Regions from separate parts of the Homo sapiens genome. Here region 1 is linked to region 2. Evidence: fine-mapped expression QTL. A gene starts in region 2. The other region holds a variant in brackets. All regions are shown on one strand. Distances are between the middles of the regions. Region 1 overlaps PACRG (parkin coregulated). Region 2 holds the start of PACRG-AS3 (PACRG antisense RNA 3).

The links. PIP is the estimated chance that this variant, and not a neighbour inherited with it, causes the effect.
Region 1: its variant is fine-mapped to the expression of PACRG-AS3 in lung (TOPMed, PIP above 0.99).

The regions. Positions count from the first base shown.
Region 1 is chr6:163,222,918-163,238,414 of GRCh38, reverse strand. All of the region lies in intron 4 of PACRG (parkin coregulated), which reads right to left. It also overlaps the pseudogene LOC124901548. Among named protein-coding and RNA genes, the nearest start is that of PACRG-AS3, 39 kb to the right of the region's middle. The variant T/C (reference allele first, on the strand shown) is at 7,374.
Region 2 is chr6:163,184,164-163,199,660 of GRCh38, reverse strand. It overlaps PACRG-AS3 (PACRG antisense RNA 3), which reads left to right and starts at 7,659. Exons shown (of 4, transcript NR_122120.1): 1 at 7,659-7,780; 2 at 8,679-8,753; 3 at 14,743-14,836. All of the region lies in intron 4 of PACRG (parkin coregulated), which reads right to left. RefSeq lists an enhancer at 12,957-13,527.

The DNA.
Region 1 (15,497 bases), 39 kb before region 2:
CAATCTAACACCAATACTGCACTTATCCTTATAAAAGAAGTGCCTTATGAGTTCTGGAATCAATTGGATTTAATTATTTACTGTTGTATATAAAACTCACTTATTGAAATAAAGTCTCCATTGCTCCCTCTTTTATTCCATTATATCATGCATATAAATATTTATTCAGCTAATAAATTTTATTTAAGATATAATACAAAACATTCTTAAATAATAGGAATATGACACTTTGACCATAAATTCAATTGTAGAGTAAAATTAATTCTGATGCTAGTCCACACCATCATTAACATTTTCTTTTTCAGTTAACCAAGAAAATATAATTTCAGTTTTACTAAAAGGGTTTGGCAACACTCCCTTCCACAGTGGGGCAATACTCCCTTCCACAGCTCTTCCTTCAAGCACATCCTGTGTTTAGTTGATTAATGAAAAGCCCCAGGAACTTTAGCTGCATATAAAATGGATATATCTTCTGACAGGATAAATAACACATGAAAATATAAGTAAAGCATCTTTTCATTGATGTCAAACAGGACAATGGGAACTGGTAACTATAATCTTTTCCTGATGACTTGGCTTAGAATACTGAGCAAAACATGTAGTAATAACCTATTAAGTTCAATAGTGTGAGCCATTTTCTGGTAGAACTTCTATAAAGAAAGAGTTTTCAAGAGAAAATAGGTTATAAAGTGATTAATTTGTGACCTTACACTAATGTAATTTATGGTGCTTCAATTTCTTTTCATATAACCTATCTTATGAGAACAGAAATGTGGCCTTAGAGACAGTAACTGGGGTGACAAAGAGACAACTCCAATTTACTTTATCTTAAAAAGGACATTATTATATTTTGAATAATGTTACCGTTGGCCTTACATTCATTTTCAACAAAAGTTGAGCATTTTTGTTTTCCTTAAGCAAGAGAAAACATGAACTAGAGCTAGATTTTCTCCCTATTTAATAACATCTAGTCAAATTAGCTATGTTGGTAGAAAATATGTATATAAAAAATACTTGCTAAGATAAAAATCCATTTACAGAAGACTGTGTCTATCAAGAAAATAAAATTACTGCAAATTAGGATGTATGCAATCCCAATATATTTTATGGAACAATCACGTGACCAAAAGTTATACTGTCAGACTAAAGAAATGGAGGGTAAACCCACCCCCTGCCAAAAAAACCCCACCCACCAACTAGCCAATCAAACCACTGATATATATTTAGGTTTGATGAAATTCATCATGCTAAGTAATTAAAGGAAATATCTACACATTACGTATCTCAAAAGCCTGTATCAAACCATCAATGATATAGTTTGGCTCTGTGTCCCCAGTCAAATCTCGTGTTGAATTGTAATCCCCAATGTTGGGAAAGGGGCCTAGTGGAAGGTGATTGGATCATGGGGGCGGAACTTTCCCCTTGCTGTTCTCATGATAGTGAGTTCTCATGAGGTCTGGTTGTTGTAAAAGTGTGTAGCACTTCCCCCTTTGCTCTCTCCCTCCTGCTCAAGCCATGTAAGATGAGCTGGCTTCTCCTTCAGCTTTTGCCATGATTGTAAGTTTCCTGAGGCCTCCCCAGCCATGCCTCCTGTACAGCCTGCAGAACTATGAGTCAATTAAACCTTTTTTCTTTATAAATTACCCAGTCTCAGGTAGTTCTTTATAGCAGTGTGAAAACGGACTAATACAATCAACCATTCAATGCCCCACTAAAACGAAGTGGCAAACTCTTGGTACAGCGGCACAGTCTCCACCTCTTCTTGCCATCTTTTCAGTCCCATAGCAGACATTTGTAATTGATTATGGCTCTTTATTCACCCGAGGGTAGGAAAAGACCCGGAATCTTGTGTAACACAGTCATATTTCCCATCAGAGTTCTAAAATGAGATGAAGTTCATCTGCACTTGTGTGAGACTAAATCTTCAACCAGTCAGTAGACAAATATTTATGGAGTGCTCAAAGGACAGCTATGCTTAGGAATACGTAGAAGAGATTCAACTCAGTTTCTGCTGAGATTAATTTCCAAAGGGGGAAAGAAGCTAGCAAAGCATAAGTATACATAAGTGAGTCACAATTACCAATAAATGAAAGAGTATTCAGAAGAAGGCCAGCTCAAGGTGGCACTAGGAGGAATGGAGAAGGGCAGGGTTGTTTAGGAAACCTACCTGGAGGTCAAACTACATTTTGGTTTGAAGAAAAATAAATGTGCTTTGGCAGATGGGAGGAGAACAGTTCTATTTAACATGATTTACCCTGAGGTTCATACAGGGTATGCCATACCCTGTGTGGCATATCCCACCATCTTTCAAAGTATCTTGTAGCCATTGCTGCCCTGACATAGGCAGAATCACAAACAGATTTTTTCAGATAAATAAATGCTTGGAGATCAGTCATATAACAAGTAACCTTTGGAAGAGCAGAAAGTTTGCCAGTTTTCCCAAAGCCTCTCTTTAAAAAAACAAAAACAAACAAAAAAAACAACTTTTTTCCTTTCTTTTTTAGTGTTTAGTTGTTACCAAACCAAAGCCTCTCTCTTATAAGCAATATTTGACAATAATAAAATATCAAACCACACTATAAATTGACTCACCAAGGGCAGAATTGAAAAAGAGAACTGTACTTGTTAAAGATTCCTTTGGAGGAGTGTAAGGAAATTGTGAAGAATTAAAAACAAATCCCTATAATATAGATGATAAAACCTTGTGAAATTGAAAAAATTTTCCAGAGAGAAATGTATAAGAGGAAGTGGACAATATTTCTGATAATTTCTCTTAGGTGCTGGCAAGCTGTTGAATTTAGGCACATTTCCTTGCTAGTCTATAGACATTAACACAGGGGATGAATGGCATGATCTGGCAAGAGGAAAACCCCTTCTCCAAGGAGAAGGACCTTGAGGAATTTGGAAGCAGATATTTCATATTCCACAAGTAAAAGAACACCATGCTCTCAAGACATACATTTTCTAGTCACCAACACCACCTCCTCTCAGTCAAGTGACATTTTAGTGGCAAGCTTCATGGAAGGCAGTTACGTACAATGGGGAAATTGAGAAATTATTTTAATGGAGCCTGTGTCTCCAGAAGATTATATGATGCTTTATCAATGGAGAAGAAATATATCTGTATATGCTTCAGGATTATCATTAGACTGTCACATGCAAAAGGGGAAATATGACAGGTTTGGGGATATTAGAGAGCAGCAGGAAATGTGGTGCGTCTGAACTGCTCGAGTCATGCCCACAACTCCCATTCAGCCGGCTTACGATGGAAGAGGTGAGCCCCTTCTCATTTCAGGCAAATTCTTCCGCTATGTCTTCCCACCTCCTCAGGGCCCTTGTACAATAGATTATAGCCTTTCTTTTTTGTACCTTCAGTTTCATGGAGCTCATATCTTTCTTCATTTAAACATAGTCGTGTCTTTTCGTCTTAAAACTAGCAAGTCTCTGTCTAACCCAAAACGTTACCAACATTTGGCCCCACTTTCCTTCGTCAAAATCAACTTTTTAAAAAGAGTTGCCTGTACTTGCTCTCTTCCTCAACTCTCATTTATTTTTTTACCCATTATAATCTGGCTTCTGTTTTACCTCTATATGAAAACTGCTTTACCCAAGACAGCATTGTTGCTCAGTTCAATGGACATTTTTCAGCCTTTATTTTACTTTGCCTCCAAGAGAAATTTTTGACTCTGCTCTCTTTGTTTAAACACATTCTTCTTTTGGTGCCCATAGAAGTAAACTCCTGTGGTTTTTGACCTGCATCTGTGGCTACATCTGCTTGGTCTCCTTTGGGAGCCGTCTGTCCCTTAAATGTAGGTGTTTTAGTCTGTTGGGGCTGCTATAAAGGAATGCCGAGGCTGGATAATTTTTAAGGAAAAGAGGTTTATCTTGGCTCATGGCTCTGCAGGCCATACAAGAAACATGGCACCAGCATCTGCTTCTGGTGAGGGCTTCAGGAAGCTTCCATTTATTGTGGAAGACGAAGGGGAGCTGGTGTGTGCAGAGATCACATGGCCAGAGAGGAAGCAAGAGAGGAGGAGCTGCCAGGTTCTTTTCAACAACCAGTTTCTGCAGGAACTAAGAGTGAGAACTCACCCACTCCCATGAGAAGTCACTCCCCTGAGAATGGCACCAAGCCATTCCTGAGGGATCTGCACCCCCCATGACCCTCCCACCAGGCCTCACTTCAAACATTGCAGATCAAATTTCAACATGAGACTTGGCAGCGCCAAACAAGCTATATCCAAACCATACCCAAACTATAGCAGAGGGTGAGACTCAGAACTGCACCCTAGATCATCTTCTGTCCCTGCTCTGTGTCACTTTCTATGGACCATCTCCATCATTAATGACAAGAGTACTCTTCCTTTAATGATGATAGTTATCCCCCAAGACCTGAACACTCTTAAATGGCTGAATAAAATCTATTACTTCCCACCAGGCATTTCTTATTGAGCCCCAAGACAAAATGTCTTATTATTTAGGGAATATTTCTATTTGAATGTCTCTCATTTGGTGAAATCTTAACAATGAAGGACAGTGCAACTTACAATTTCCCTCCTTCCCTACAAACGTGCTCCTCATTCCATTTCCCCTTCCAGAATTTTGTTTTCAGAACAGAAATCCAGAAGTTATCTTTTACTCATCCTACTTCCTCACTCACAATTCTGTGTTATTAAGACCTGTCCTTTATATGTCTTCAATATTTTTCAAATATTTCCATTTTCTCCATCTCCTCTGCCCCTAACACAAAGAAGTCACTGCCATTTCTCATGTGGACAGCTGTATCCTGCCCCCTCCACGGCCTCTTGGACTGTCTTTATCCCTTCCCATCTTGATGTTAAAATGTTTCCTCTTATTTTCTTGAACTCATAATATGTTTTCTCACACAGTGAAATGCATGGCAGTTATTTCTTTGGGCTAGCATGCAAAAGTCATTTAGCCACACAGGGTAATTTAGAAAATGGCATCTCTCAAGTTCAAGGCTGGTGTCATTTCTCTCCCTCTCTCTCCAAATTACCATCTAGGTCAACTGTAAAATGCCCCTGCAGCCTCCGGCCTCCTGCATTCTACTCCATTCCTCTGTTTTTACTGGCAGGTGAACTTTTTGTTCATCAATCAGTTCAGCCATCTCTTCATCCATCCATTCACACACCTTCAGCTTTGTCCCTAAATAATTTAAATCTCCTAACAGAGATGTAGAAAACATGAAAGTAGGTGAGAAAAATACAAAGGATAGTGAGCAGGTTATTCCCATTGTGAATTGAAGATGGATTGCAGCAAAGAATACTTCTTGGGGGACAAATTCCTGCTGAGCGTGTTCTGTAACATCACAATACAAGAGAAAACTTAACAGAAAATGTGTTTGAAGTTGCTGAGACCATCTCCTCCCCAGAGATGCCCTTTGCTACACTGGCAGGGCCACTCCAGCTGTAGTCCCAGAGGGATGCGGCCCTGGTGTGAGGGGCAGTATTTCAGCTGGAGGAGCAGAGTTGGGAGAGGGCTGAGGGCTGGTTTCGGGGGTGGAGGCTCCTGGAGGAGGGGTGGAGGGGCTGGCTGTGCAGGGCCAGGGCCTCCTCCTGGGAGCGTGAGCTGGGGGGTAGGTGAGGCGTGCTCTTTACCTTGCTCTGCTCTCAGGCCATGCCTGGACTGTTCTTCCTGCTCTGGCACCTCAGGGAATCAATCACTTTTGTCTCTTCCTATTGCCTGCTGTTCCTGAACAGGGCTCCTCTTCTCGCTGGTCCACAGGAACCTGTTGACCTTCCCCGGTGTGCCTTAGGGAAGCGGAACACCCTCAAAGTATAAGTGTGTTTTGCCATGAACAAGGCCAGGACCACAGAGCCACCTTCCTCTGCCCCTTCTCATCTCTGCTTCTTATTTCCACACCTTCCCACCTTTCCCTTCCCTTACTGCACTGCCTTCTTCCTTCTCCTCTTCCTTTGTTCCTCCTTTCCTCTTTTTCTTCCTTTTCCCTTCCCTTCTTACTAAACAAAGTAAGAAGTGGACAAAGTGTGGGCGTTGGTCTGACACGCAGGCTGGAGCTAAGAGCTACTCTACCAGGAGGACTTGCAGGTTGGGGCTCGGGCACATTGCAGCAGCGGAGGAGCCTCTGGAGTAGCCAGGCCCCAGCGGGACACGGCACCTGGTGCAGGTGAACTCTTCTCTATTATAAGAGTGTGACGCTAATCTTCAGCTCTCCTGGGTTCTCTTCATCATAAATATTCCTGGAATGAACATCACTGTGTTGGCTTGTCCTGAGGCACTCACCTCAGCCACTCCCTTCTAGGCTGGACCTTTGTGTTCTGTAGAGAGCTGCCTTGGGTGGTAGAGGCTGGCCTGAGAGTCCCAGCAAGTCAGTGCCCACTTCAAGTCATCTTCAGAAGTAGCTTATTTTATTTGTTCTAAATAATTATCTGTCCATTTCAACATATACTGCAGATGAAATATCTGCCAATGCAGCATTACATAAATACCAACGTAGTGCCAGCTCCAGCTGAGAGTGAAGCCGGGACTTGTTTACCTACAGTAACTGCGTGCTCAGCATTCTTGGGTGAGGCTGTTTATCATGGCCAACCTGCAGCCAGTGGTCTGGAGAGGCTCTTGCACCTGTATGGTCCCACCTCAGAGAGGCAAATGGATCTCTGCTTGTTGAGAGTGATTCTGAAACTATGCAAGCTCATGGATAAGGGGCTCTGACTGGCAGATGGAGTTTGTTGAGGGTAAAAGGAGTCACCTGGTGGGTGCTGGTCCTGGGGAAGGCATGCAGTCAGCCAGGATTGCTTGCCTTTTCAAGCCACCCTATGTGAAGTCACCTTTTGCTGAGGCATCCTGGCTCAGCGGATCTGGGCTCATAGTTGTGAAGACCTGCAAAGTTGCTGATCCATCTGTATGGAATTGTCTGCATCCGTGCAGGGTGTGACAACCCGGCATGTCACTGTGGTCAGAGCAGCCCGGGGCTCTCCTGCATGCAGCGCCGGTGCAGACTTCCAGCAAGCCCATCTGGGGACTGTCCACTGCTTTATAAAGGGTATGGGCAGGGAACTCTGGCCATGTTCGAGCAGGATGTGATTAACATGACACAGACTACTGTTTTCTTGTTCTAACAGCATTTTCAGTGGCATGGCAGTGAGTGGGTCACAGGACATAAGAAAAGACAGTGGATGAAGTTAAGAGAAATAGAAAAGCCGCAGGAAGCAATTTTGGAGGACGCCAGTGCTGCTGGCAGGAGAAACCCCAGCCAGCAAGCCACGGCTCCCCCGTGGGCCTGCCCACCTTGCCAGCCTCCCAAAGGTGGTGCCGCTCCCAGCCGCAGCCCCATCCTATCTTGAGAGCCCCTGTTTGGGGTCTCCACTTTCTCTGCTGGCCCAGAGGAGCCG[T/C]TGCCTTTGCAGGGATCTTCTTAGTTGTGCCTGAAGATTGTGGCACCCTTGACCTCTCTCCTCTGCCATCTCAATACCATATTCATTTCTGTCCCGCAGGCTTCTTTCACGAGGCTGTAATTACTGGCAGGGACACCTTACCTACCTCCTCCTCTCTCTCCAAATACTGTCCTTCGAGGCCTAATTGAAGGCCTCTCTCCTCCAGGAAGTCTTTTCTGAATGTTGGAGGCTCTGATAACCTTCCGGGTTTTTCCCTCCCTAACTCTGCACCTACAGCAGTTCGGCATTACACACCATCCTGCGTTCTTCATTTGTTTATTCAACCACGTTTTAGGGATTTTGAAGGTGAATTACTGTTGCTGTTTCCATCAGCAATAAACAGACATATAGACACATAGTTGGACACATTTGGACACGTCAAATAAGTCTTAAAGGCCGTGGAATGAGTCTAGTTATATATGTTTTTCCATTCTAGATGGCATGAAATTTAATGTCTATTCAAAAGTCGAAACTATAAAACTCCACTAAGTATAAGCTTTCCAGATAACTAGTTTATTTTCTCCCTGGAACTTAAAATAGGAGGAGGAAAGGGAAGTCTAATTCTGAGAAAGTAGGATCTCTTTCGGATGTTTTGTCCATTAAATAGTGAATATTTTATTACACTAAAAAATTCTATGCATGTAGACTTACAGTAAGTACTCCATATACATTTTAGGCTGATAAATTGGAATAACTGGTATTCTAAGGGGCATAATTTCCTAACATAAGGACACAGTTACCTGTGCTACAATGAAGAGATTAAAAATTGGTTATTGAATGCTTTATCTTAAAGGAGTGCTGTGTAGTAAAGAAGATTCATATTTGCTAAGCTCTTTAAAAACTGTAATGCATGGTGCAAATGTTACATATATAGACGTACATTCTCTTTGCAAAGAGCTTTCACAAAGGACAATGTACTATGAAGATGGCCACTTGGAAGTAAATAGGACTTTGAGGCGTTTCTGATGCCACTGTAGAGAATGTCAACAATGGCAGTATTAAATTTGCTGTTTTTTATTATTTATTTCAATGCCCAGAAGCAAACTGTTGAATAATTTCACCATCAGGTTACAATTGAATTAGGTTCTAAATTATAGGAGGTTAGTGGGACTCTGTGGACCTGAAATTGACCTCTGCTGTCGCCTGGAGACAGTTCTGGGCATCTTGCTGACAACTGCCGCTAAAGGAATTGTGGAGCCTGTTGGTCCTCATGAGAGGAAGTCAGCGCTTTCCTCATCCATCTTTTCTTCCTTCTTAAGAAAAATTCTTCTGTCCCAAATTTCTTCCCAGAGGAGGGTTCTCCTAGAACTATTCAAGGGTCTCTTCCAACAGCATTTGACAGGTGTGGAATTACTACTTAAAAAAGTCACGAGACTAACTAACTGAAGGGGAACGATGGTGCTTGACTACGAATGCCACATTTGTGCTCAGGTGCAGGTTATTCAAGCTGTGGCTGAATGTCTTTGGAACCATTACTGGAGCAAAGCCTGCAGACAACTCCTTGCTAAACCATAAAATGATGATTCTGGCAAGCAAAGATCAGATGCAATCTGAGTGCTCTGAGAAGCAGAAGAATCAGTGCTTTGAAAGGGATCACAAATACTGGATTTTTTGTTGTGGTGGTGGTGGTGGTTTTGTCTTTTTTAGAGGCAGAAGGCAGAGGTCTCACTCTGTCACCCAGGCTGGAGTGCTGTGGCACGATTATTGCTCACTGCAGCCTCTAACTCCTGGGCTCAAAGTGATCCTCCTGCCCCAGCCCCCTGAGTGCCATAGGTGTGCACCACCTCTCCCCTGGTTACTTTTCTGTAGAGACGGGGGTCTCACTATGTTGACTAGGCTGGTCTTGAACTCCTGGACTCAAGTGATCCTCTTGCCTCAGCCTCCCAGAGCATTGGGACTACAGGTATGAGCCACTATGCCTGGCCTGCAAATACTTTTAAATTGAGATATGAAATTTAGCCCTTTCTGGTTCAGTAAAATGTTTACTATTTTTATAAACAAAACATCAGAAGGAGATTCTACTTTCTCAGAATTAGACTTCCCTTCCATCCTATTTTCAGGTCCAGGGAGAAAGTAAACTGGTCATTTGGAAAGATTATTTTCAGGAGTTTTATAGTTTTGGACTTTTGAATTAGACAGTAAATTTCAAGCTGTCTGGAATGGAAAAACATATATAACTAGACTCATTCTGCGACCTTTAAGACTTATGTGATGTGTCCAAATGTTGGTCACTGTGCTAGAGAATCACTCCAGTCTGCATTTATTCCAATTTATAAAGGTTTCTTTTTATTTTCAGCTGAAATTTTTACTTTGGGAAATGTTACAAAAATAATCATGATCGTTCACCATCGTTCCTTTACTTCTGCAGTATTGCCGAAAGTTTTAAAAAAGTGACTGTACTTTTTCCATAAAAAGGAATTCTTTGGTATAAAGTTGGTTTACTAATCATACTCTAATGGCCGTGCACCCGTGCACTATCTTAATCTATTTGTCATAAACTGACCGCCAGCATAATTTTGAATGAATTAATGAATTAATCCAGCACATGTTGAGCCTCCGCTGTGTGCCAGGTACTCTTCTAGGTTTACTTATTCCATTTTTTTTTTTTTTTTTTTTTTTTTTTGCCTGCTTAAAGATTTCCAAAGCTTATCTGCCTCCACTGATGTCCATTTCAATCATTTTCAGGCGTAGATTAAGAACACCCTCTGGGCTCAGGGACTCTGACTACATCTTCTGATACCACAAGTACTTCAACTTGCTCTCATTTGAAGAATCCATTGCCTGGAGAGCTGGTCAAATTCCTGGAGGGTCATGGATTTTTGTCACACTGATTAGTGGTAGATTGAAAAAAAAATAATTTTCTTGTTTTCTAATATACATATATATCTTAAACAGGAAACAAATATATGTGTCTTCTCTGTATATTTAAAAACAATAACCTTCTGGATACATTTCCAGACTCTGAACTCATGCTTGTTTTGATGTTCATTGTGGTTTTTCACCAACACTGCCTGTCTGTATGATCTTTAATCACAAGTTAATTTTTAAAAGCTTCATTAGTGTGCTGTTTTTCTAAGCTGAAATTAGTTTTTTCGACTTGGACATATCAGCTTAGCTGCATTTGCCTTATTTTCTTATTATCATAACCTATGGCTGGTGGTGTCAATTTGATGAGAGGCTGTGCTAATAACACCCAAGTTGTGGGTTTCATTCTCGCCACAGGGAGGGCAGTTCGTCTCAATGGAACAGGCAGACCTATCTTGTCCAGTCTTGCAAACGTGTATGAGGGTCTGGGTGTAAGGGTGAATGTTTGCTGGACCTGGGTGTTAAAGCTTTGTAGTCCCCATCAGTATAAAGCTGTTTCTGCTCCTGCTGACCTGGCTCAGTGCAAGTCCTGTAACGATGGGTAGGCTGCTGGCTCTGCTCCTTCATGAAGGACGGCACACCCATGGGAATGGCTTACAGTCCTCTCGTTATCTTTCCGTTACATATATTGGTGCATCTTCAACTTCTAACTCATTAGAACAGCAGTGCTATAGTTTGAATATCTGATCGCGCTCAAATGTTGTGTTGAAATGGAATCCCCAGTGTTGGAGGCGAGGCCTGGTGGGAGGTGTGCTTTGGTCATGGGGTGGATGCCTCATGGCTGGGTGCCATCCCTGCCCTAGTGAGTGAGTACTGGTGAGGTCTGGTTGTTAAGTACGTGGCACCTTACCTCCCACCTCCCTCTTGTTCCTGCTTTCATCTTGTGATGTGCGTGCTCCTACTTCGCCCTCTATCGTGAGTAGAAGCTTCCCGAGGCCTCCTGGGAAGCAGATGGCAGCACAATGCTTCCTGTACAGCCTGCAGAACTGGGAGTCAATTAAATCTCTTAAAAATTACCCAGCCTCAGGTATTTCCTTATAGCAATGCAAGAATGGCCTAATACAAGCAGGAAGTCATGTTTTTACATGCCACAAAAATTCCCGTGGAATCTTATGTGGTTTACCATTATTTTTTTTAACGTACCATCATCATTTATAAGGTTTGAGGGAGGCATATCTCACACATGAGTGTGAAATCCTACTCATCACACTTATGAACTACAAAGGATCAGTTTACCATGATTTTTAATCCCATTGGCTCTTTTAATTAAAATAGACATCAATGATGCAAACACTTTCAAACATTTTTGGAGTTTATCCTTTACTACATCATGGGTCACGGTGGAGGCTGCTGCTGAGTACTGCCCCAACCCTCCTAGAGAACAGGTTCTCCCCAGGCACTGGGATGTGAGCCACCGATGGCTGGGTCTCACCCTGGGAATTGCCCTCTGCCTCAGACAGGAGCTGCTTCACTCAAGGTTACCCCTTCCTCCAGCAGCCTGCATGGGCTGGCTAATGTATAGGCACAGAGCCCCAGCCCCTTGGCCTCAAGTGGAGATTGCCTGGGACCTCCTCCAGGCAGTCTAACCTCTCCTGCCCAGCCGTTTCTTCCTCTTTCTTCCCACCTCCAGCGTTATTAAGGCCTAACTGACAAATAAAAACTATATACATTTACAGTCCGCAATGTGATGTTTCAACACATGTACGCCATACCCTGTGGGATGATTACATCAAGCTTATTAGCATATCCATCACCTCACATGCTTCTCATGTTTTTGTGGTGAGAACATTTAAGACCTACTCCCTTAGCAATTTTCAAATATACATTATTATTAACCAGCGTCACCAGACTGCAGTGGATCTCCAGAACTCATTCATCCTGTCTCATCAAAACTTTGTGCCTTTTAACCAACATCTCCCAATCCGCTTTCCTTCCCCAGGCTCCTGCTAAACACCGTTCTACTCTCTGCTTCTATGAATTTGACTTTAGATTCCACATATGAGTGAGATCACGCAGTTTTTGTCTTTATGTGACTGGTATATTTCACTTAGCATAATGTCCTCCAGGTTTATTCATGTTGTCGAAAATGAGAGGATTTCCTTCTTTTTATTTTGTTTTTTTGGTAGAGACAGGGTCTTGCTGTGTTGCCCAGGCTGGTCTGAAACTCCTGCACTCAAGTGATCCTCCTGCCTCAGCCTCTCAAAGTGCTAGGATTACAGGCATGAGCCACTGTGCACAGCCAATTTCCTTCTTTTTAAAGGCTGAATAGTATTCCATTGTGTATATGTACCACATTTTCTTTATCCATTCGTCGACTGATGGACACTTAGGTTGATTCCATGTCTTGGCTACTGTGAATAATGCTGCAATGAAAATGAAAGTGCAGTATCTCTTCAACATACTGATTTAATTTCCTTTGCATCTATATACCCAGAAGTGGGATTGCTGGATTACACAGTATCTCTATTTTTAACGTTTTGAGGAACCTCCATACTGTTTTCCATAATGGCTGTACTAATTTACACTCCCACTAACAGTGCGTAAGGGTCCTCTTTTTCCACATCCTTACAAACACTTGCTATATTAGTTCATTCTCACACTGCTATAAAGATACTACCTGAGACTGGGTAATGTATAAAGTACTCACAGTTCTGCATGGCTGGGGAGGCCTCAGGAAACTTACAGTCATGGCAGAAGTGGAAGAGATACACCTTACATGGTGGCAGGTGAGAGAGAGGGAGTGAGGAGCTAAGGAGGAAGAGCCCCTTATAAAGCCATCAGATCTCGTGAGAACTCACTCACTATCATGAGAACTGCATGAGGGTAACCACCCCTGTGATCCAATCACCTCCCACCAGGTCTCTCCCTAGACATGTGGGGATTATGGAGATTAAAATTCAAGATGAGATTTGGGTGGGGACACAGCCAAACCACATCACTTGCTATCTTTTGTCATTTTGATATTAGCCATTCTAATAGGTGTGAAGAGATATCTCATCATGGTTTTAATTTGCATCTCCTTGATGATTACTGATGCTGACCATTTTTTCATGTACCTGTTTGCCATCTGTATGTCTTCTTTTGAGAAATGTCTATTCAGATCCTTTGCCCATTTTTAAATTGGGTTATTTGTTTTCTTGCTATCAAATTGTTTGAGTTCCTTATATATTTTGTATATTAACTCATAGGATTTTTGGTTTGCAAATATTTTCTTCCATTCCGTAGGTTATCTCTTCACTCTATTGATTATTTCCTTTGCTGTACAGAAGCTTTTTAGTTTGATATAATCCCATTTATCTAGTTTTGCTTTTGTTGCCTGTGCCTTTTGGGTTATATCAAAAACAACAACAACAACAACAAAACTACCTAGGCCAATGTCACGTAGTTTTCCCCTATGTTTTCTTCTAGCAGTTTTACAGTTCCAACTCTTATATTTAAATCTTCAATCCATTCTGAGTTGACTTTTGTATGTTGTGAGATAAGGCCCAGTTTCATTTTTCTGCATGTGGATATCCAGTTTTCTCAATACCATTTATTGAAGAGACTGTCCCTTCCCTGTGTTATGTTCTTGGCAGCTTTGTTGCAGATCAGCTGAATATAAATGTGTGGATTTATTTTTGGCCTCTCTATTCTGTTCTATTTGGTCTACATGTCTGTTTTTATGCCAGCACCATGCTGTTTTGATTATTATATCTTTGTAGTGTATTTGGAAATCAGGCAGTGTGGTGACTCCAGCTTTGTTCTTTTTTTTTTTTTTTTTTTTTTTTTTGAGATGGAGTCTCACTCTGTTGCCCAGGCTACAGTGCAGTGGCATGATCTTGGCTCACCACAAGCTCCATATCCCAGGTTCAAGTTATTCTCCTGCCTTAGCCTCCTGAGTAGCTGGGATTACAGGTGCCTGTCACTGTGCCTGGCTAATTTTTGTATTTTTAGTAGAGATGGGGTTGTGCCATATTGGCCAGGCTGGTCTTGAACTCCTGACCTCAGGTGATCTTCCCACCTTGGCCTCCTAAAGTGCTAGGATTACAGGCATGAGCCACCACGCCTGGTCCCAGCTTTGTTCTTTTTGCTCAACGTTGCTTTGGCTATTCAGGGTGTTTGTGGTTCCATATACATGTTAGGATAGTTTTCCTATTTCTGTGAAAAATGCCACTGGAATTTTGATAAGGATAGCATTCTCAGTCTCTTATAGGCGTTATTTCTGTGCAAGAATCTCCAACTCAGAGCCCATTTCCAGGGAACCTGACTAACAGAATCACTCTGTTTCTACTTTATTTTTCATCCACTGTTTAGAAAAGCAATTCAATTAGCAAGGCACATCTTCATAATGCATGCCATTCTGCCTGTTTGTGGACCAGCTCCCTCTCCCTAAGCATGTTTCTTCTGGTCCTCAGCCAGTCGAAAGCCCACCACATGCTAAAGCCAGCAAAAAGCAGTCTACCTCAAGCCTTTTCTGACCACTTTCTCTTTCCTGTTCCCTCTTCCAAAATTAAATCCTCCTGTAACCCTTGATTTAGGCTTCTTCTTTTATAGCATTTACTTTTTCCTGTGCATTACAGTCGAGTCGTCTAACACTCTCATTAGAATGCAAGCTTCTACTACTTCCATCCTTCTTCTGCTTTCCCATTGTGTGTGGAGCTCAGTGGGCACTCAGAAAATGTTTTCTCAATGGGACACACACATTTTTATTCTCAGTATTTTAGTTTATCCTTAATATTCTTTTATTTTTTATTTTTCATTTTTGAGATGGAGTTTCACTCTTTTTGCCCAGGCTGGAGTGCAACGGCGCAATCTCGGCTTACTGCAACCTCTGCCTCCCACGTTCAAGGGATTCTCCTGCCTCAGCCTCCCAAGTAGCTGGGATTACAGGCACCTGCCACCATGCTCGGCTAATTTTTGTATTTTTAGTAGAGACAGGGTTTCACCACATTGGCCAAGCTGGTCTTGAACTCCTGACCTCAGGTGATTCACCCGCCTCGGCCCCCCAAAGTACTGGTATTACAGGCACGAGCCATCGCGCCCGGTCAATGTTCTTTTGTTTTACTTCTTTTTCCCTAGGTATGTTATACACAATCATACCTACTACATTTTTCAGTAGAAGTTAATTGGTAATTATTTAAGGCAAGATCAATCTGTACACTAAGTTAAATAATCACAATATTACAGTCTCATTTACTTTTCCTTTTTGAGCTACATAATCATTAACTTTCTCTACGGCAT
Region 2 (15,497 bases):
ACCATTTACTCCTCCAGGGAAGTATTAGGTGCCTGAGAGGCGGCCAAGCTTGGCAGTTAAGGGTGAGGCCTCCTGGGCTGCACTGCCTGAGTTTGAATCTGGGATCAGCTCTTTCCTGCCTGTGTGATCAAGGCCTAGGTCCTTGCCTGCTCTGTGGCTGGGTTTCCTCCCCAGGCAAACGGGATGATAATAGTCCCTGGGTTATAGGGTTGTCATGAGCCTTGAAGGAATGAATAGACACAAAGCACTACTTTTCACTTGGAACAGCGGCTGACACAAACCCTGGAGGAGCCTCTGTCCTAGCTGAAGGCCCTCTGGTGAAAGTGGATTAGAATCTCTAGTTTCTTATGAATTAGCTCAAGCTGCAAGAATCAGCCTGCAATTTAGTTGAGGGCAGGAAACATTTTATCATTCTTATTCTTTAAGTACTCAGAGCTTCATTGAGTACATTGAACATCATGGGTGTTCATCTATTTCTTTATTCCGTACATGATCATGTGAAAGGAAAATAAATCTTGGGGCCCCCAAATCACTAAGCTCAAGGGAAAAGTCAAGCTGGGAACGGCTTAGGGCCAACCTGCCTCCCATTCTAGTCAAAGTGACCCTCTGCTCACTGGCATAGGTGCATATCTGATTGCCTCCTTTGGAGAGGCTCATCAGAAACTCAGAAGAATGTAACCTTTCATTTCATCTCCTGTGGCCTGGAAGCCCCTCCCTGTTTCGAGTTTTCCTGCCTTTGCTTCAAGTTGTCCTGCCTTTTCAGACCAAACCAGTGTACTTCTCACATGTACTGACTGATGTCTCGTGTCTCCCTAAAACATACATAAAACTAAGCTGTGCCCCAACCGCCTTGGGCACACGTCGTCACAACTTCCTGAGGCTGTGTCATGGGCGTGTCCTCAACCTTGGCAAAAGAAACTTTCTAAATTAACTGAGACCTGTCTCAGATTTTCTGGGTTCACGATCATTAAGCCCTTATTATTATCAAACACCGGGGCAGATGCTGGGACCTCATTAATGGGCAAGGCAACACACTTTCTACATGTAGCAAAACAGGAACACAGATCCTTGGTGCCAGACAACCTCGGTGCCCATCCGATCCACCCGTTCTCACTGTGTGACCCTGGGCAAATTAACATCTCTGGGCCTCACTTTCATCATTTGTAAAGTGAGAACAATGATACCATCCACTTCACACAACTGTAAATCACACACACACATGTAAAGTGCTGAGAGCAAGTGCCTGATGCATAAGCAGTATGGAGATGGTGCTATGATTTCCTCATTTATCTCACAATCTAGGTATTTGATGGTGTTTTTTGAACAAATGATAAACAAATAATCAAACTCTGAATATTTTTTAACTTACTGAGCTATCTTGACTCATTATATTAGCAAGAAAAGAGAAGTAAAATTCTCATAATCAAAACAGTTGATGCAGACTATATTAAAAATCTGTGGTCACTTTAGTGAATAACTAGTTCCAGTCGTTTGGTTAATGCATGTCCAAGGCTAGACTGAAATGCCTACTTGAAAAAGGAAAGTATGTGAGTGAATCAAAGTTTTTACTCTCACTCCAATTTTCCTCAAGACATCAGCACAGATTAGCGGGGACCTGGGGCTCACAGATAAACACGTATCTAGAAACCTCTCTTTGCATCAGTGATGATGAAGTCATTATATCCCTATGTACTGCCTTGTAAGTTTCAAGTGGTTTACATCACAATTTTTGTACTTTTTGTTTTGTGCTCCTGACATGGACAGGGATGCTATCCTTTCTACTTTCTACTGGGATGTGGCCAGTTCTGTTCCTTTGAAAGATAAGATAACCCCTGCTCTGAATTGCTCCCTTGTCAATTCCCTTAAAATGGAAGGTAAAGAGAGAACATTTAACATAAGAATAGAAAATAGCCGGCGGGCTCAGTGGCTCAGGCCTGTAAGCCCAAAACTTTGGGAGGCCGAGGCAGGCGGATCATGAGGTCAGAAGATCGAGACAATCCTGGCTAACACGGTGAAACCCCGTCTCTACTAAAAACACGAAAAAAAAAAATTAGCCGGGCGTGGTGGCGGGCGCCTGTAGTCCCAGATACTTGGGAGGCTGAGGCAGGAGAATGGCGTGAACCCGGGAGGCAGAGCTTGCAGTGAGCCGAGATCGCGCCACTGCACTCCAGCCTGGGCAACAGAGTGAGACCCTGTCTCACAAAAAAAAAAAAAAAAAAAAAAAAAGAAAAGAAAAGAAAATAGCCACCAGTTTCATAAGGACAGTAGGTTAATGGGACTGTACTTTTATGACACACCTCTAGAGCAAGCATTTACAGATGGTATTTCTTTTTTCTTCCTTTATAGCTAAAGGTGATTTCAAAATAGATGTGTACTGGAGCAACTGAAAGCACCAACAATATCCACAGAGATGAGCTGTGATTACTACTAACGGAGAACCAGTTATGACTGTATTCAAAGGGAAATGCTCTTACTGTGGAAAAAATCAGGTATTGACACATTCTACTAATATATGTATTTTTTCCTGGCAGAAAAAAGTTATCTTGAAAATTTTAGGTTCAAGTTTTTAAAAGTTTAGTAAAATGACCACGAGTTCTTCTTACTTTTTTTCTGCTTCAGTTTTCTCCCTCCTTCATATATTTATTTATATTTTCTATCATTTGCCCATTTACCAAGCTGTCTGTCCGCCTCTATCTATCTATCTATCTATCTATCTATCTATCTATCTATCTATCTGTCTAGTCTGTCTGTCTAGTCTGTCTACATGTCTATCCATCTATCTACCTGTCTATTTGTCTGTCTATTTGTCTATCTGTCTAGTCTTTCTTTCTACCTGTTTATCTATTTGTCTGTCTGTCTGTCTAGTCTTTCTGTCTGTCTGTCTGTCTCTCTAGTCTTTCTTTAGCTCTGTCTTCTGAACATCTGCTCACCCTGGGTCTTGTGTCATGTGCACATGTATCTGTTTATTTCTTGGCCTCTCTTCCTTCTTTGATTGCAGAATATGATAAGTGACTCTTTCAAGAAACCATCACTGAAGTCTCACTGAATTCTGTCAACAGTTCCAACGACGACAACAGGTAACATTTATTGAACCATCACTAAGTGCCAAGCAGATTGTTATGTAATTTATTTACACTGTGTTGCCTAATGTTGCCTCAAACCCTGCTGAAGTAGCTGTCACTCTTCCCATTTGACATCTCTAAGGTGCAGAGCAGCAACTCCCCAATGCTGCACAGCAAGGTGAGGCCACAGGTAAGGCTCCCAGTAGCCCTAGGACAGGAGAGGTCTTGGAGCGGATACATGTTGGCGAAAAGAGTGAAAGGTCACTTTAACATTTGGGTCGTGGTTGACCAGGGGAGGGACGACGGTGTCATTAGCAGGGACAACAGAGCTGTTGGGCGCTGTCCGTGAGCAGCAATCATAGTAGCTCTCATTGATTAGAGTCTCCATGTGCTTATCATGTGCAGGGCACGGTTCTACTTCCCTAACTCTAGATGATCAGGGAACGTTCTCGCGGAAACGCTGTGCGAGAAATGCTGATTGGGATCTTGGACCTGTTGCTTTTGAGGTGGGCAGGAGATGAGCTGGAGGAAACTGAAGGAAACTGAGCCAGCGACTGGAGGGACGGGGTCTGGGAGGGAACCAGCTCGTAGGGGGTCTCTGGGATCCCTGCTTCTCCAGAAAGAGCAAGAGGGAGCTGCGCCCTGCTGGAGAGCGGGAGAATGGAGGCGAGAATCAGGGAGGGAGGAATGAGTGAGAGAGATCCCGAGCTGGGAGGAGATGCTGGGGAGCCAGCGGAGACACCCAGGGGCGGGCGCGGGAAGGGGCGCAGGAGGAAGCCAGAGCTCTCCAGGGGCCATTTTAGAATGGCCGTGGGAACTGAAACTTTGAAAGCAGCGTGACTGTGTGTCTTTAGGCGCAGAATCTCCATTTCCCGGCAGGGCAGGGAACGCAGCACAGGGAGGCTGAGAGGGGGGTCGGGCGGCCTCCACTGCCACCTCCTCAGCCGCCGAGGCGCAGGGAGCCCTGGGGGAGGTTAGACCCCTTCCTACCTGCACTCCCTTATCACAAAATGTCTTTAAAGCACACTTCTGGGAAGCGGGGGAACGATTTCGCCGCTGGAAAAGGGAGTCACACCACATTGAAAACACTGGGCTCTAGGGCCATGTGGAAAGGGAAGAGGCCTCCAACACTCCTCTCCATTGGACGCCTGTCTTCATGGGTTTCACGGTCAAATGTATGATGTAAGGAGAACCCACATGAGGAGATAGTCTTGGAAGTGTGGTCAGGGCGGCACCTGTGGTTAAACTTCTCTTTGGCAGCACTCTCTTTGGATGCAACAGCTTCAAGACTAGATGGAGATTTAAGGAATTATAAATGAAATAAACAATTAGCCAACATTATTAGTGGTTCACGATAATGAAATGTGAGAACAATCAAATGCCAATCATCAAAGCGTGGCTGAGAGGCCAAGGCATCCCCGATGCTTTCTCTGTTATGGGGGGATAAAGAGGCTCCTTCAATTGCTACCTTTGGAAACATCACCTCCTTTTGACATGGTGAGAGTCGGGGTCAAGAGAAGTGGACTCCCTCTACCATCGACTCCAGATCAAGGCTCAAGTTGAAGAGGACCAGTCCCAGGAGGGAGGAGAGGCTCACTGTTCAGCAAGCCCGTGGACACCGATGTAGAGGGGAGGCACTTGAAGAGCCCCAAATATCTGATGCCTGCAAAGTGCACTGATGACCAAAAGGGAGGGAGGGGCGTGGGGAAGGAGGGGAGAGTGAAGGAGGTGGGAAGGGAGAAGAGCAGAGGGAAGAACAGCAGGCGTGGGGTTGGGGGGCATTGCACTCCAGTCTCAACAGGCAGCCCCATTCCTGTGGCCCAGTAGGCCTGCATGTTCTAATCTCCAGGACTGATTTTACTTGCTCCAAAATACTTGCACATTGATGCCTTCACAAATAGGCTATTTTGATGAGTGAAGCAACCACCGCTTACAAAAAAGCTGTCCTCTTCAGTGTAGGTATGCCACTATGACTACAAACACCTCGGACACCCCGGCTGCACCCTATCTAGTCCCAGGAATGACTGGCTGTCAGGGTCCCCGTCAAGTCCATTCTGTGCTTGATGGCAGGTGGCCTGTGGCTTGTGCAGCCCAGAGCCAGACACCACCAGCCTGGAGGCGCCGGGGTTTCCTGCCTTGGGAAAGGCAGACAGATGGAAATAACAAGATGAAGAAAGAAAGATATGAAAGGAGGGAAGGAGGGTGACAGGGAGACAGGAGAAAAGACAGGGAGGGAGGGAGAGAGGGGGAGAGAACAAAAGAGAGACATCAAGAGGAAGAACTGAAACTAAGTTCTGGAACTTCAAAAGTAAAAACAGAACCCCAGGAACACTGACTATGGAATCTCTCCTCTGTAGAAAGGAGCACTGAGTCTATGAGCTACAGGGGAATGTGTAATCGGGCGCAGAACCTCCATCACAGATGGCCTCATCTGTTGTCAAATCTGATTAGTATTAAGAAACAGTCTTACTTGAGGTCAGGAGTTTGAGACCAGCCTGGCCAACATGGCAAAACCCTGTCTCTACTAAAAATACAAAAATTAACCGGCTTTGGTGGCCCACACCTGTAGTCCCAGCTACTCGGGAGGCTGAGGCAGGAGAATCGCTTGAACCCAGGAGGTGGAGGTTGCACTGAGCCGAGATCGCGGCACTGCACTCCAGCCTGGGTGACAGAATGAGACTCCATCTCAGGAAAAAAAAAAAAAAAAAGAAACAAAAAGAAACAGTTTCCTAGTCCAACATGGATTTGAAAAAGTCTCTGATTCTATGTTTTCTCCAATATGTTTAAAATGTGTACTACATTTAAAATACATTTTTATTTGAATTACTTTTAGGAATACTTTCAAACTATGACGGGCTGGTACAATTTCTAACTTTGAATATTGAAACAAAAATTATCTCTGAGGAAAATTTGTCGAGTTCAATATAACAAAATAAAAATATTTTTTATTTAATAAAAATAAAGAAAGAAAGAAATCCCATGTGTTCACGTCTTCATTTAGTGTTTCCCTCCCAGTTCTCAGGAGGCCACCATGCCGCCCTGTTCCGCACATAGCACTGGGTTCTTAAAAATGGTCAGTCTCGGTATTTCTGGCCGGGCAGCCCCTGGGAACAATCGCCTTGTTGATAGTTTTCCACACTTAATCAGAGAATTTAAAGCAATACAAATGGAATAGTGGTGAAAGTACCAACTCTGACCTTAACTCTTCATACATTGTCTTAAGTTTAAATTCAGCCCTCAAAAACAAATTTAAAACAAAATGAAAGTTTTTCCTCTGGATATTTGAAAGACTGACACCCATTTTCACTCTCTCAATCTAAGTGAAGCCTTATGGAAATGATTAGCACACAAGGCATATTTCTATAGTTGGATATTTATAAAATATAACGTGGCACATTAAAATTTTTCTAGACTCTATCACCACCTTAAAAATGAATATTTAAAAATTACCCTGCAGTTACATGCCAGTGTGCTTGAAATTTATTTTTATAAATATTCATTTGAATTATAGGCTTCAAATGTCTGTATCAAGCAATAAATTGTCATTTTAAAACCAGGAACAACAAAGAGTGACTGTTTATTGGGTTTAAAAAAGGCTTTTATCTCTCACAGACTTTGGGATCCGGTTTAAGGGTTGTAGAATGGTAAGAAGTATCGGGCATTTGGAAAAAATGGAGATCCAAGGAGTGAAGAAGTGTGTCAGATCTTTTTAAGCAGGAAATCGAGTGATGGCTGCCTACTGCAGGACGTCACAGATGTCTGCACCTGTCCAACCCTTGACAGATGCTCCCAACACACCCAACCTGGGAGCCAGTCAGCCTAACCATCTTCCCTGCAAATACACACAGTACAAAAATAAAATGTTCTCTCATCAAGTCTAAATAGAGATCCACATAAGCCATCCATGTCAGAGAACTCTAGCTTTGTACGCTATGATAAAAAAAAGTATTTAAAATGAAATAAACACCTTAATTCATGCTCATCTTGAGACACACTTACCAAAGTTTAAATGTTTAAAAATAAGGCAATAGACATTTTTATGGTTGATAACAAACTACAAATTTGTCTGGGGGAAAAAATCATTAAATGTTTGACAAAAGAGCTGTGATAAGAGATAAAGAACACAGTATTCACTGTCTAAAGAACCAGAGGGGAAAATACAGCTTGTCCCCGAGCCCACATTTTCAACTATGTGTGCTATGATTACAGTTCTAAACAATGGATACTGTGTCAGCACAGAGAAAAACAAACAATAGATCTTTTTCTGAAAGTATCTGTAGGAAGACCATACAAAACAGTCAACAAGGGAACTGAAATAATCCTTGCATTCTTTGCAAAAATAATACTTTAAGGTTCCTTTGCAAGAATGTTGGTATTCTTTTCCACTGTGCATTTCATTTTCCTTCATTCACTACAGATTTTCTCCCAACCTGCACCTGGTTTGAGCAGCAGTCAGCTGGCTTCTGGGGACTTTCCCTATTTCATTCCCTCTAACCCCCAGAGACTCTGGAGGCAGCTGCACAACTGTGCTTTCTTTAGTTATAAAAGCTAGCTTGTGACATCCTTTGTGTGATTCAGTTAAAAACTGAATTAACTGAAATCAATTCAACAACAACTGCCCCGGTGCTTCCCCGTAGATAGCACCGCTGGTCAGTTCGGGAGGGGATGGGACATTGAGGAGCAGGACAGTCTTCAGGAAGCTTACAGTCTGCTTTGGGGTGTGAGACACCAGGCGGGGTGTGGCTTTCATTGGGAGGGACTCCTATGAAGTGTTACAGGGTTTAGAGAAAAAAGGTGGCTGGAAATGGAAGATGAGAGGATCCTGGACAACCTGGGGGCAGAGGGACGTCATGGCTCTGAGTGGGAGTGGAGAAGATGGCATTTTGGTGGATGGGTGGAGGAAGAGCATAGGCACAGATGGCCACGTGGAGTGTGGTCCACAGATAAGTCACCTGGTGGAGTGCAGCCACAGTGCCTGAGTCAGGAGGTCTCAGCTCGTGAGTGTATCTTAGCTCAACGATACACTCAAGATCCTTGAGCTAGGAGAAACCCTATAAACCACCTAAGTGGATGCCTTCTCTTTAGAGAGGAGAGAGCTTAGGTCACAGAGAGGCTGTGACCTCCCCCAAGGGTGGTGCAGAAAGCGGCCATAGCAGTGAAGGGGAAAGGCCTCGTGGCGTTGGGGGGCCACTCGCCATAAAGGTGTGGGGGTCAGAGAAAGGGAAGATCAGAGGACACTGGAACTTGACACTGAGCTGAGGAATGAGACTGGGTGGGATCATTCATAGAAATTTCATCTGAAGCCTGGGAAGGAAGTAGGTTTGGGGGGTGGCGGGAAGGGATGATGGTGAAGTTAGTTTTTTAATTATTGCTTTTATTTATGTATTTATTGTTTGCAATTTTGAGGTCTAGTGTCCATTTAAGTGGAATGGCTTAGGAAAAGGTGCTCATATTTTAAGCTGTTCTCCTGGACTAAGGGTGAATACATAGTCCCTCTTTTAACTTGAATCTAAGTAACAGGTTTTTTGTTTGTTTGTTTTGTTTTTCAAATGATAATATGTAATATTTTAAATTCAGTATTCTAATAAATGCTAAATAAGGGATTTCTGATTTCAGTTGTTTCAGGAACACAGTCATCCCTCAGAAATGGATTGGGTGACAAGTGGTCTGCATGCTGCACACGGGCACTGGGTGAGTGTGCTTGGAGCTGTTTGTCAGGACATCATCAGCAATAGACAGAACACGAGGGAAGTAATCAGTGAAAGAAGACGAAGTTGTTAAGTTGTTTCTGACTTTATCTTTGGAGCGGGCTCACAGAACATTTGAGTGGGCTTTTTGGTATAAGAGAAAGAGCCCTACACTTTTGCCCAATTCTAGTTCTAGGCTCCAAAACAAATTTTACTAGGGTTCTGAACTGACGGGTTAGACTGTTTTTGTTAACTTTTATTCTTATAAATATTTTTGGCCATTGCAGTCCAATCAGAAGAAAAGTAGAAAGCAGGTCATTTTTACCTTCTCTAAGAAAAGAAATCCAAAATTTACAGGAAAGCCCATTCTTGAAAGTCCCTTGTGCTGCTAGGCAGGGCCTTTCGATTATTTTCAGACAGATGTTGAACCTTCAGAATTTCCTCCGTGCATCGGGGTCACTGACTACTTGTGTCTAATGCAACTCTGCACTAACTAGATTGTGCGCCGACCTCTATTTTCACTTTCAAACCTCATATTCCAACGTTGCTCAAGGTTGACTGTCACTGACTGGGCTTTTCTTTACGACTGTACTTATGAAGAACAAATGTACTTGTAAATGTTTGGGGACTTCAAATTTAGTTTACAAATGTGTAGTCCTCATTGAAGATTCGATTTGTATTATATTTAGGCAAGTTTTCTGGCTCTTAATGGGGTCCTAATGAGTCACCGATGGTAAGGCTTCAGATTCAGACCTTCCTGTTAGGATGGGGATGAGCTGTTTGTCCTCATTTGCCAATTATTTGGAAGAGAAAACCAATGTAATGCAATCGGAATCCAGTTGTATTATTAAGACCCGCATTTGAAACCTAGTTTCTTCTATCAGAAGTAATTTTTCTGATTTTTGGATTATGTACTTCTCCTTCATATAAATGAATGTTACTGCTTTTGTGGTGTTACCAGACCTAGCTTATAGAAATAAATGACAGGCCACCTGGGGGTCTGCCCGTGCAAGCATGAACTAAGCAGCAACAAGCAGTATGCCCTGCGGTGACCAGTGTGTCAGCATTCACATAAGCCCGGGACAGTGAATGCGGGCCCTTGTCAGTCACGGGCATCAGGCGCATGGCACTGGGCACAGCTGACTGCCTGTTGATGCTGATGGCTGGATGGCTGCATTTAAGTACACTTTCACAAAACTCATTTGTATCTCTTCCCGAAGAAACCTAAATGGAATTAATTTGTTGGAGGGCTGCAATGTAAAATTTTTAAATAGAGAACAAAATGGAGTATGTTGCTGTTTCATGGAAGAGAACACGGGAGAAACTAGCAATCTGTAAGCTAAAAATTGATGGCAGCCCCTGCCACAATGAATAATTGGCAATGCCATTCAGCCTTTAAAGGTATCAGATAATGAATAAGCTGGGCATAAGGCATCTAGTTCCCTTCCATTATTCTCCAATAGGTTATGTAATAAACATCCATCCCTGAAAGATAATTCTGTTTTTCATTGTTCTGTAAGAGAAGATAATTCTCTCTTTTTTTAAATTGTCCTGGAAGACATTCTTAAAACACCTTGTTAACAAACTGGCTAAATGTCCACCTACAGAATTGCACTAACTAAAACCAAAATTAGTCATTAGAGCTGTTATGCATTTGTCAGCAAATCCCTTATGTCCATCTCATGCCTGACTTTTCTTTAACAAAACTATGTTATACGTAGAACTTAGCAGTACAGATGATGCCTGCTTTGATCATACAAACGGGCTTTATACATGAATTGTAATTTCCACTTTAATTTGTTTTTGCGAAATCTTTCCTGCAGTATCATTCCATCTCAGCATTCCCCAACCACCTTTGACATTTTAATCAATTATCCTCTCATGTCTTGTTAGGCCACAAACGTATGGGCTCTATTTTTTCAAAGAAAAGTATGTTGGTCACTTACAAGATGGATCCAAATGTAAAAGATGTTTTTCACGTTCTAGCGTACATTCCTAATTGTTCTTAGTCAATGTCTGCAAATGAATAGTATGTGGAAATATCCTAAGCCCATGCTTGCTTTGTACAAAGGAATCCTTTCCCCTCTACTGAATGCTATCTGGATGGGCAATGACGACAGTTTTTCAGATCTCAAACACAACAGAACGACACACCAAGTCAGACATGAACTAAACTGCAATTGTAACTACTGAGGGAATTTTTATGCAGATTATGTAACAAAAATGAAACTAGACAAAGTGTGAGAAAGGCCACTAAAATAAAACGGTCAGGCCACGCTTTAGAACTGTAGAATCAAAGAGTCTTCACCTTTCTAGGCTGGAGACGACCTTCTCACTCACGGACCAAACCCTTGGTGTGACCTCTATTTCCCAAGAGATGAGCCTTCAGGCCTGAGGATCAGTGGCCTGATTCTTATAAAGGAGACGGTGGACTCACAAAGGCATCACGTCAGTATTTTAACAAGCTCACCTCTAAGAGATGACGTTAGATTTTCTACTGTAGCTTCGGGGGCTTAAATAGACACTCCTTAATTTAGAGTTAGTAAGCTCAATCATTTTGATCAGGTACAGGTTTTTAGCAACAACTGTCATCAAAACAGGTTTTCCAGTAGCAAATGAATTTGATACTGACTAAACATTTGGTAAAAGATGACTATGCACATGCCAAAGAAAAGAGTGACTTGGGAGAGCTTTTTCTATACAAAGAATGGTTGACTTGGGGCTCCTGCCTCCCCGATGTTCTGATGCAAACCAGTCCTGTGTGTGGGGACTCTATTTGCACAGATCACATAGTTCCCTGTAGGAAAAGATACTCATATAAACCCACACAACTCCAACATAGCTCAACAAGTAGAATTTTAAAAACTAATATTGTAAGGGGTGTTTCAAAGAGATATGCTCATTTTGGGACTTTTTAACTCTCCCCTCATGTTTCCTGCCTTGTTGAAGAGTGGACAATTTATTTGGTATTGACTTAGTGTGAGGCATGCCCTAGACCCGAGGAATATAAAGGGGACTGGGAGAAAGCCCGGCCTCCCTGGAGCTCTTCACGTGATGACAGGCGCAGATCAGCGGACAGGCGCGTAACAGGAGGTGCTAAGTGCGCAGGTGGGGTCACGTGCCGCGTCACAGCAGTGCTGGAGGAGAGTCCTGACTCATGGCCTGGGATGCTGGGGTTCCTCCCCAGAGAAGCTCTTTTGGACCTGGGAGAAGGAGTAGGACTTTGATACACCATGGAGGTGAGAATCCACTTTGGGATGGGAAACCCACTGAGTGAGGTAGAAAAGAGGGTGAAGTAGAAAAGGTGGGATTCGGGGCTGGGAAATCCAGCAGGGTCTCTGTGTGCTGCCGATGGGTTTGGATGGTTCTGCAGGTGACGGGGCTGTCAACGTTGCAGCACCATGATGAAGTCTGGGGTGGAAAGCAGATACATTCATGGAGGGGAGGAGCGCGGGCTCTCAGTTGAGAGGCGTTCTCAGCAGTGCTGCAAAGAGATGGGGCCAGTCCTGAGCCACTGGAAAGGCGGGCGGCGAGCACAGAAGCCTTTCACAGGCCACTTGCACAGGCCTGGGTGCACTGACTGGCGTGGGTAGGGTGGGCGAGGGTGGCGTCCAAGGTGACACTGAGGTTCCAGCAGAGGCCGCGAACAGATCAGTCTATGGAGGGATGTTGGGCATACAACGGAGGAGCGGATGTGAGAAGTCAATAATGAGTTCAATTTAGGCCATCCTGAGGTTCAGGTGTTGTATCACATACAGTTGAAACTGTGATTTGGTGTTCAGAGGAAAACAGACTTTGAGAAAAACAGATTTGGGAGCCACTGATAGGGAAGGGAAACGGATGAAATTACCCGGGACCCTGTGGAGCTTGAGGACGGGGGGTGTCTCCCTCCCTGCAGAGCAGGTGCCTGGAGAGGAGACAGAGCCCGTGAAGTGGGGGCAGGAAAGGGCGCTGATGGCGCAGAGCCCGGGGAAAATGTCAAGAGCCCCAGGAGTGGATGCCCCCAAACAACCGTCAAATTGGTCTTGTGTGTGCGGTGAGGGCGACGGGAGGCCGACTAAATACCTCCTGACTGTGCCCCTCAGCGGGTAGGAACAGAAGCACCTCCAGGGAGGGAGCAGAGCGGTGGAGAGGAAATGCATGCTGGGTTGAATGACATCAAACTACTCGGAAGCAAAGGAACAGCCTCATGTTTTAGTCTGTGAGATGGGGCCAGGGAGCGCCTGGTCCGGCAGGAGTGAGAGATGCACACCTGCACGCGACGGCTCCACTGGGCAGGGAGATAGGGTGTGTCCAGGGGAAGAGGCTGCCAGAAGCGGCCAGAGGAATCAAGAGTTCCAACTCTTAGTAAGAATCTAAGTTGGGAGAGATGAGACTGTGGGCACAGCCAGGCAAAACAGGCCTCTCCACCACACTGGCCCCATGCTGAGGACAGAGGTGGCAAGTTTAGAATGACAAGTAGTCTGTGTGTGTGTGTCTGTGTCTGCGTGTGTGTGTGTGTCTGTGTCTGTGTGTGTGTATCTGTGTCTGCCTGTGTGTTGAAGGGGGCACACGAGAGAATTCCCTCAGTAATCTGAGGGTGTCTGAGAGTGGAGACAATGAGAATGTTGCTTCCATTTGCCATTGGACAGCAGCTCTCCAGGCGTGTGCAGCTTTGCAGCCAGCAGGCTATGTTGGGGTCCACCCCTTGGCTCCATTCTTGGGGGAAGGGGGAAATCTGAAAGCCTGCCAGAGAAAAGGCCACACAACGAAGCCCCCTGGCTAGGCAGCCCACTATGCAGATTCTATAAGGGGGCAGTGCCTGCGTCTCAGAGGGTGCCTGCAAGCTGAGCTGAGAGTTAAGTGAAGGCCAGCAGAAAGGCCCAGTCACTGTTTAAAGAAGCCCTGTGACATATAGGCTGGACCAAAACAGAGAGAGGAGGGGGCACGCCCTCCCCCACTCACTGCCTGGGAGTGCTGGGGTGATTTGCTGGGGCTTAGAGTAGATGGGGGTGGGGTCAGCAGTGGGAGAGGAGACACAGGGAAGCAGCTCTGGAGCTCAATGCAGCAAAATTCTCCCGATGCACAACCTGCTGAGAGGCATCCCTACTGGACCCATGAGGCAGTCTGGGGCTCAGGATCAGGACATTACACGGAGATACAGAGAAATAAAGAGCATTTAATTTTGGCCTTCAATTATGCCCCTGTGAAGTTCATGCCCACCACAACTGCAACTAAGCTAAGGTGGTCGCTTGCATTTTGTGTGGGATTAAATTGATGATGCCGCGATTTCCTCCAGCATCTTATCTCAGGCATCGGGAACTAATCTGCAGCAGGGCCACCATTTATATTGTGGGCACTCAATTTGTTCTTTTTCTTAACGAATTCTTTGATTATCTAATACTTTCCTTTAAAATGGCTTATATATTTGCAGTGAAATTTACCAAGTGTTGAAGTAACAGTAACATCTTTAAGTCCTGTTAATTTGAAAAATGTAGATTTCCTATGACAACCCTGAACTGTCCTGGAACTTTACTCATGCTGAACTTCAGGACATCTTATTAAGCTGGATCCATGTTATAGAAATTACGTGGATTGTTTTATCACAATGTCCCCTGATCTTTCTTTCTTAGCTTAATTTTCTACTACAATCCAGGCTTGTTTTGGCCAATTGTTCCCACTTGCTTTTATCGGTAAAAAAACAATTGTGATGACTCCCAGCGTACGGCTGCACTCCTCCTCCATCTTTCTCTCTGTGGTGCCATGTGCAGAGGTGCCTGGAGTGTGGTTAGATCCTTTCCCCATCCCTGGCTACAAACAGCAGTATTTGCTTCTGCCCTATATGGTGGTGTGCTAAATTAATTACTTTTTGGTTTCTGCTAATTAATTGCATTGGTGTTCTGGCTTCAGCCTTCCTGGCCTTGCAGGTATCATGCCATGAAAACAAAACAAAACAAATCTTCCATGATCTGGCCTAATTTCTACTGCTTGTCCCATTTCCATTTGCCCACCAGGTCTCTGAATGTAACCAAATTGTTCTCCTCTTATCATTCCCATTCACTGGTGTACTTGTTTGTGGAGCCTGCAGAACTGCCTTTTTCAAGAATGGTGAGCTTTCTCTCTCTTTTTGTGTCTCTGGGTGCCTGTACGTAGGTTTCTTTATATTAATGCCTGAAGTAGGCAAAGTTGCATTTCTTTATGTTGCTAACCTTTCTCGTGCAGTGCGGCAGGACAGCAAGCAACCCAAGGCTCTGAGTTAACTCCTCTCAAACACAGGGATATTCTTAGGAGCTCATAGCACCTGTACCACTTAGAACAATTAGAGACATTCAAGCTAGTATGGCCAATACGAACATTGTTTATGTGCTTCCTTTTTCGATTTGGGTTTTCGAAGCCCTTAGTAATTCTTAGTGAAATGGAATAAATAGAATTGCACCATTATTTAGGCACCGCTTTTTTCTAGCAATTTCCATTCCAATTGGACACTGAAAATTTCACCATAATTTGTCATGGCCACATGAAATGTTATCAGGGGCAGTGTTACTGAGCTAGTATGGACAGTATAAAGAGATGCACTGTCTTTAATGTAGCATTAAAGAAACAATTTATGTACAGGATTTACCAGACTCTTAAGTAGACCTAAACTGAACAAGAAATGCTACTTTAAAACTTCCAGTTACTCTATGTTCTATTATCTATGCATCCTGCATATTAGCACTGGGGTAAATTTCTTAAGGAACCGAGCACAAGGAGCTAAATTTGCACATTG